Homo sapiens: one gene and its partner. The protein of the gene in region 2 interacts with the protein of the main gene of each other region in a pairwise test. Each region holds a gene or a part of one and is shown on either strand. Other genes may lie near its edges.

Region 1 (3,501 bases), on a different chromosome or scaffold from region 2:
ATCTGTCAATATTTGATAGACATTTCCTACCAAATATTGAGACTCAGAGACCCATTTGTAATTTAAGTTCTAACCTTTTTACCATAACTTTCAGTCAGATTGTTAGACCTAAAATATCCCTTTAAGGTTTTCCAGATAAAATTCCTGAAACTTAGTCCACATTCATGTTATAAAAGTTTTAGAAAAGAGAATGAACTAGGTTGTCCATTTTATCTCTTACATCCTTGTTTCTTCCTAATGCTTGTTTATTTTTGTACTTACTGTATCTATCAAAGAATAAAATAAAGCCATAGATGTAAATTGTGACATGTCTATTTTCAGGAAAATAGATTGATAAATAGATAATAAGATCTGTGACTTGATAAGTTACGTCTTCCCTCTTGCTGTTGTGTTCCCACATATTGAGCACTATTCAACCAGATTGTTTCAATCTTCACAAATTACAGGGAGCAGATACATTTAACTCGATTTTAGTTTCAGTAGGTTTAAGATAGAGAAAGCATCCCATAAAACTCCATAATGAATTTAAATTTCTTTCAAAAGTGAGAAAAATGTAAGGAAAAGGAAGTAATTAATATGCAAGTCACATAGTGGTAACAACCAAGAAGTAGGGATGTTCTATGATTCAGAAGGGAGAAAAGACTACATAATACAAATACTACCCTCCTATTACCCATGTCACCCATCTCCCAGTGTTGTTCTGTCTTTACCTTGTTTAGGAATTACTGTGAAAACTCTTGGAGAGTCGGGAATCTGTAGACTTGCGTGTTGAGGAAGCAAGCTGGCATTTACTGAATAGCTCTTATGCCATGTGTATGTTTGTACAAGGTTTTTTTTTTCATTCTTGGAGCTGCGTATTGTACAAATAAGTAAACTAACGCTCATCAAAAGATGTTTCACATGGTCATACAGCTGGCGAAACTCTCAGGCTAGGGCTTAAACCCAGATCTTTCTGCCTGCAGAGGCCTGTTCCTCCAGCAGTACTCCACTGTGTCCGTGTACTCCACACACAGCAAGGCCCTACTAACAGTCAGATCATCGTAGTAGTGGTGTATCCCTAGGCACAGCTAGCCTGCCTTAAGAGTCTCTTACAGAGTACTTTTCTTATATTGCTTAAATTTCAGCTTTAGAGATTTGTTTATATTTGCAAGCTATCTCTGCACAAATTCTTGTTCCAAAAACTAAAACTGCTGGCTTGAGGCCTTTGTTAAGCAGTTATAGAGGTTAAATAGGTGACTGTGGGATGGTCCTAGAGCCAGACATTTATTGAGAACGTTGTAACCTAGAGCTCATACTCTGACTAAAGCAACTGCCTGGCAAACTGTTTTGAGAATCGGTTCATGAGTTGATAACTTGTCTGTGTAAACAAATAATAAAATAAAAAAGAGTTTAAAGTTCTCTTAGGACTCCTGAGGGAGAGGACAAGGCACAATAGAAGTGCTAGAGAGCCACCTGTGCTTATAGTCACACACTCTTCCCAAGCAGGTGCCAAGCCTACTGGCACACACAGATGACAAGTAAGACAGATGTTTGTGGAATAAGCAACACACGCATGCCTGTCTTGGGTTCTGTTGAGGCAATGACATTAAAAGCTTAAAGTAGTATTTCTTAATGGCAGTACTACTTTCCTAATGATTGGAAAATTGAGTGGTAGGCTGAGTTTACCCAGTGTCAAGAGGGCCCAAGTGTATTCCAAAATGCATTCCAGGCTGGGCGCAGTGGCTTATGCCTGTAATCCCAGCACTTTGGGAGGCCGAGGTGGGTGGATCACTTGAGGCCCGGAGTTAGAGACCAGCCTGGCCAACATGGCGAAACCCCATCTCTATTTAAAAAAAGAAAAAAAAATTAGCCGGGCATGGTGGCACGTGCCTGTAATCCCAGCTACTCGGGAGGCTGAGGTAGGAGAATTGCTTGAACCCAGGAGGCGGAGGTTGCAGTGAGCTGAGATCATGTCACTGCACTCTGGCCTGGGCAACTCTGTCTCAAAAAAAAAAAAAAAAGTATTCCAGAGAATATCTTAAGAACAAAAAGTGTTCTGAGATTAAATACATTTGGGAAACATTGGTTTTTACAAAGATAAAGTAGATTTTTCTATTGCAGGATTACTTATTATATATTTATTGTTTTAATATCAATAAATATTGTTACTCCACAAAAGTGAGTACCTGGTAAACGTCATCTTTCAAACCTGACTCTGGAAAATTTTCATTCAGTTTCCCAGGAACTAGTGTTCTGTGAAACACTCATCAGGAAATGCTAAACTGGAGACTGTTAAGATAATGAGTATCTCAAACTGTGGCTGAGTAAGATTTCTTAGGGTTTCTTTTTTTTAAGAGACAGACTCTCATTATGTTGTCCAGGCTGGATTCGAACTCCTGGGCTCAAGCAGTTCTCCCCTGTCGACCTCCCACATAGCTTGGACTACAAGCACATGCCATCGTGCCTGGCCAGTTTCTTAGGAATTTTTAAATTCAATATAGATAGAGTAGGCTGAAAGAGCAGTGGTAATCAGATGCACCAAAAAAGAGAAAAATGAAAAACTTAGAAAGTTTAGAATAATCTTTAATCTATCTCTCTTGAGTAAGATCTAAATGTGATTCGCTTCTTATAGTAGCTATGATCATTAGCCAAAGCAAGCCACCCAATGAGGCGTGTTATTATTTGTATTGGCCTAATAATTCACAATGGTAGATTTGAAGTGTGTGCTTTGAATATTTAGGTGATACTCTCAAAAGTGGGTCAATTTTAAGAAATGTTGACAGCAGAATCACTCCTTATCCTTGCACTTTTCACAGGGAAGTGAGCCTCTTGAACCCTCATACATAGTGGGGCATGTGGCCTCAGCCCCCAAAGAACAAAACCTGATTACTTTATTCAATGACGGGGAGCACAGTCAGGTATGCTTTCCATGGTGTCCAAGGTGACAGCAAATCCCCAGTCTACTTTGTCATTTCAAAACTAGCCTAAGTCGAAATTGATAGGGAAAAACTCCACTTGATCCTGAAACTGCTTTCTAAGCATCTTTGTGATCTTAGCTCTGGGGCCTGACTTTGTCTTCTTTGTCTCTTCCTTTTTCTAGTCTTTTTATGGATCATGGGGGGAAATTACAGATTGACTGTTTATTATAATCCTCCCTATTTTAAATCACAGGGTCTTAAAAATGATTTTGTTCGGAATATTCTATGGACATTTGAAGATATCCATATGTTGGTCGGCTCCAACATGCCCATATTTGGAGGAGGCAGATACCCAGCAGTCAGCTTACGTCTCAGGTGAACTAACATCATACCCCTCCTCAAGCTTATGGTATTTAAATTCTTCCTTTAGAATCAGTGTTCCATCAGACTGAGGTTGCAGTGAGCCAAGATCATGCTACCGCACTCCAGCCTAGGCGAAAGAGCAAGACTCGTCTCAAAAAAGAATCAGTGTTCCATCTATTTGGGCATCTTCCTCTTTCTCTAGGTTTTTTCCCCTCCCTCCTTCCCCTGCCAGTTGAAATGG
Region 2 (3,500 bases):
GCGGATCACAAGGTCAAGAGATCAAGACCATCCTGGCTAACATGGTGAAACCCTGTCTCTACTAAAAATACAAAAAAATAGCTGGGTGTGGCGGCGTGCGCCTGTAGTCCCAGCTACTCGGGAGGCTGAGGCAGGAGGATGGCATGAACCCGGGAGGCGGAGCTTGCAGTGAGCCGAGATCGCGCCACTGCACTCCAGCCTGGGCGACAGAGCAATACTCTGTCTAAAAAAAAAAAAAAAAAAAAAAAAAGAGTATTTAGCAGAGGCCAGGTGCAGTGGCTCATGTTTGTAATCCCAGAACTTTGGGAGGCTGAGGCGGGCGGATCATTTGAGGTCAGGAGTTTGAGACCAGCCTGGCCAATGTGGCAAATGTGCTGTCTCTAACTAAAAATACAAAAATTAGCTGGGTGTGGTGGTGCAGACCTGTAGTCCCAGCTACTTGGGAGGCTGAGGCAGGAGAATCACTTGAACCTGGGAGGCAGAGGTTGCAGTGATCCGAGATCATGCCACTGCACTCCAGCCTGGGTTACAGAGTGAGACTCTTCTCAAAAAAAAAAAAAAGTATTTAATAGTGATAAATCTGCAGTATTCTCTTGTAGTTTTTAAGATCATATTATTCAGTCAAAGAAAAGAGCTCAACTTGAAATATTTCCAGAGTTTAAACAATCTTACTAAGCTTTGATGGGTTGTATCTATTCTTAACATGTGAAACTTCCTTATTACCTATAATATACACTAACTTAAATATTGACAATTTTTTTCCAGTGGTTTAACTTGAATTCTCTCTTGACGGGTCCAGAATTAATATCAGATACATATCTTGCACTTTTCTTGGCTCAATTACAACAGGAAGGTAAGTAACGGCTGAACATTTTGTAATGTTACCTTTCGAAGTAGTTAAATAACCAGGCACATTAGATGACAGTGTGATAAAACTGTTTTTCTGGCAGTGGCAGTGAAACAATCTTTAGTTTTGACGTGGTGATAGGCTGTGATTTGGGTGACGCTGTTCAGTTAGAGTTCTCACTGACACCTGGCCCTTCCTCTTCTGAGGATGCTGCTTTCTTTGCAGCCCTTCTAAGTAATGGCTTTTTCTTTTATACATCACATATCACACGGCTGAGAGGAGGGATAGATGTTTTTCTTCTTTGCCTCTTCTAGGCCACTGTTCTTCCTTATAAACTCCAGTTTCTTTGAAATACATGCCCCTAACGGCTGGGCACGGTGGCTCACGCCTGTAATCCCAGCACTTTGGGAGGCTGAGGCAGGCGGATCACGATGTCAGGAGATCGAGACCATCCTGGCTAACACGGTGAAATCCTGTCTCTACTAAAAATAACAAAAAATTAGCCGGGGTGTGGTGGCGGACGCCTGTAGTCCGAGCTACTCGGGAGGCTGAGGCAGGAGAATGGCGTGAACCCAGGAGGCGGAGCTTGCAGTGAGCTGAGATCGCGCCACTGCCCTCCAGCCTGGGCGACAGAGCGAGACTCCGTCTCAAAAAAAAAAAGAAAAGAAAAAAAAAAGAAATACATGCCCCTAGATTAAACTATCCCTTGTCCTTTTGCACTCATCCACAAGTCTCTTTTCATCAGTGATTTTAGGATCTGACTCGTTGTCTTTTTCTCTACTTCAACTACTTTTATCATTCTTAATTATTTCTGTATCGTCAATCAATCCAGTACCTGCCTCTTAGTTTCAAAATCACTTACTCTTGCTTAGCTATTACCAGTAATCATAACCACTGTCAAATCTCAATTGCAAGCATATTACTCTTTAACTACCACCTCCTATCTTTAAACCATGTTTTGTCTGTTTTTTTATTCCAGCCATTCTTTAAACCCTACTGTGGGGCCCAAGCATTTCCTTTATACGCATTCTTCCTTTCTTCTACTGCTTATTTTCTGTAATCCGTCATCATAATCACTCCATTGCATTCTTCAACGTGTTTCCCCTCTCTCCCTCCATCATACTTGAATGACAAAAATCTCAACCCTGGTTAAACCACATCTTGGCCTTGTCCATTCCTGTACCAGAGTAGCTGGACGTGGCTAAAAAATAACATAAAACATGATGATTGGTTTTACTTTTTTCTTAAATGATCTATCCATCCATTCACCCATCCATCTATCAAAGTGACTAGGCCTATTTCTGAAGCCCAGGCTGGAGTGCAGCAGCATAATCACAGCTCATTGCAGCTCCAAACTCCTGGGCTCAAGTGATTCTCTTGCCTTAGCCTGTTGAGTAGCTGGGACTACAGGCTTGTGCTACCACACCTAGCTAAGGTTTTACTTTAAATTTATTATAATCACAAAATTCAGATGAGCCTTTAGTGCTGTCTGATATTTCTACTATGTTTTCTTAGTGATGTACCACCCTCCAAGGTGTTTATAAAAAATTATGTACCACTCTCCAAGAAGTTTATAAAAAATAATGTGCCACCCTCCAAGGTGACTAATTTCACAGCTTATGTCTTTAAACCTTTAAGCACTTTCCTCTCCCTTACACACCTTCCTTGTGGCTTTCCGTTACATTCTGCTGAGAACATAGAAGCAATTAAAATTATGTTCTTTCTACCAGCAAATTTATCAATTTGCTTATATCTTCACCTGTGCTTTGAGCCTATTTAAATAGATGAATGGTCCCCTACCTCTAACCAAAACCAGTCCCTCACTTGTGGGCTGGATCCCAGCTCTTCTCACCTACTCAAGATGTTCCTGCTTTCATCTCTCCACTCTCTTATATAATCAGTTCCCCCCCCCTTTTTTTGTAATATTCCTATAAGCAGTAAAATAAGCTTTTTATTTCCATTGATTAAAAATAAAAATCCTCTCTTAATTCCATGAAACTCCAGCTGCCTCCCCATTTTTATTTTTTCCTTAGGATTGTCTCTAGTGTGCCTTCTCCTTTTCTTGAACTCTGCCTCCTGGGTTCAAGCGATTCTCCTGCCTCAACCTCCCGAGTAGCTGGGATTACAGGCGTGCACCACCATGACCGGCTAATTTTTTTTTTTTTTTTTTGAGATGGAGTTTCCCTCTTGTTGCTCCGGCTGGAGTGCAATGGCGTGATCTCGGCTCACCGTAACTTCTGCCTCCTGGGTTCAAGCGATTTTCTTGCCTCAGCCTCCCGAGTAGCTGGATTTACAGGCATGTGCCACCATGCCTGGCTAATTTTGTATTTTAGTAGAGATGGAAGGGGTTTCTCCATGTTTGTTAGGCTGGTCTCCAACTCCTGACCTCAGGTGAGCCGCCCACCTCGGCCCCCTAAAGTGCTGGGATTACAGGCATGAGCCACTGCGCCTGGCCCCGGCTAAATTTTTTTTTTTTTTTTTTGTATTTTTAGTAGAGACAGGGTTTCACCATATTGGCCAGGTTGGTCTCGAATTCCTGGCCTCGAGTGATCCACCTGCCTCAGCCTCCCAAAGTGCTGGGATTACAGGCGTGAGTCACCTTGCCTAGCCATCTTTTAGTAATGGTATTTGGAGATCACAATTTGAGTGCTGG

Evidence for each region.
Region 1: the proteins of ATXN3 (region 2) and EDRF1 interact in binary tests that used the Homo sapiens proteins (3 or more experiments, as listed by UniProt).

Annotation. Positions count from the first base shown.
Region 1 is NC_000010.11:125,726,208-125,729,708, forward strand, and holds part of EDRF1 (erythroid differentiation-related factor 1), read left to right. Parts: intron 1-2,795; coding exon 2,796-2,897; intron 2,898-3,150; coding exon 3,151-3,272; intron 3,273-3,501. UniProt on the Homo sapiens protein: Transcription factor involved in erythroid differentiation. Involved in transcriptional activation of the globin gene.
Region 2 is NC_000014.9:92,086,083-92,089,582, reverse strand, and holds part of ATXN3 (ataxin-3 reference isoform), read left to right. Parts: intron 1-765; coding exon 766-853; intron 854-3,500. UniProt on the Homo sapiens protein: Deubiquitinating enzyme involved in protein homeostasis maintenance, transcription, cytoskeleton regulation, myogenesis and degradation of misfolded chaperone substrates.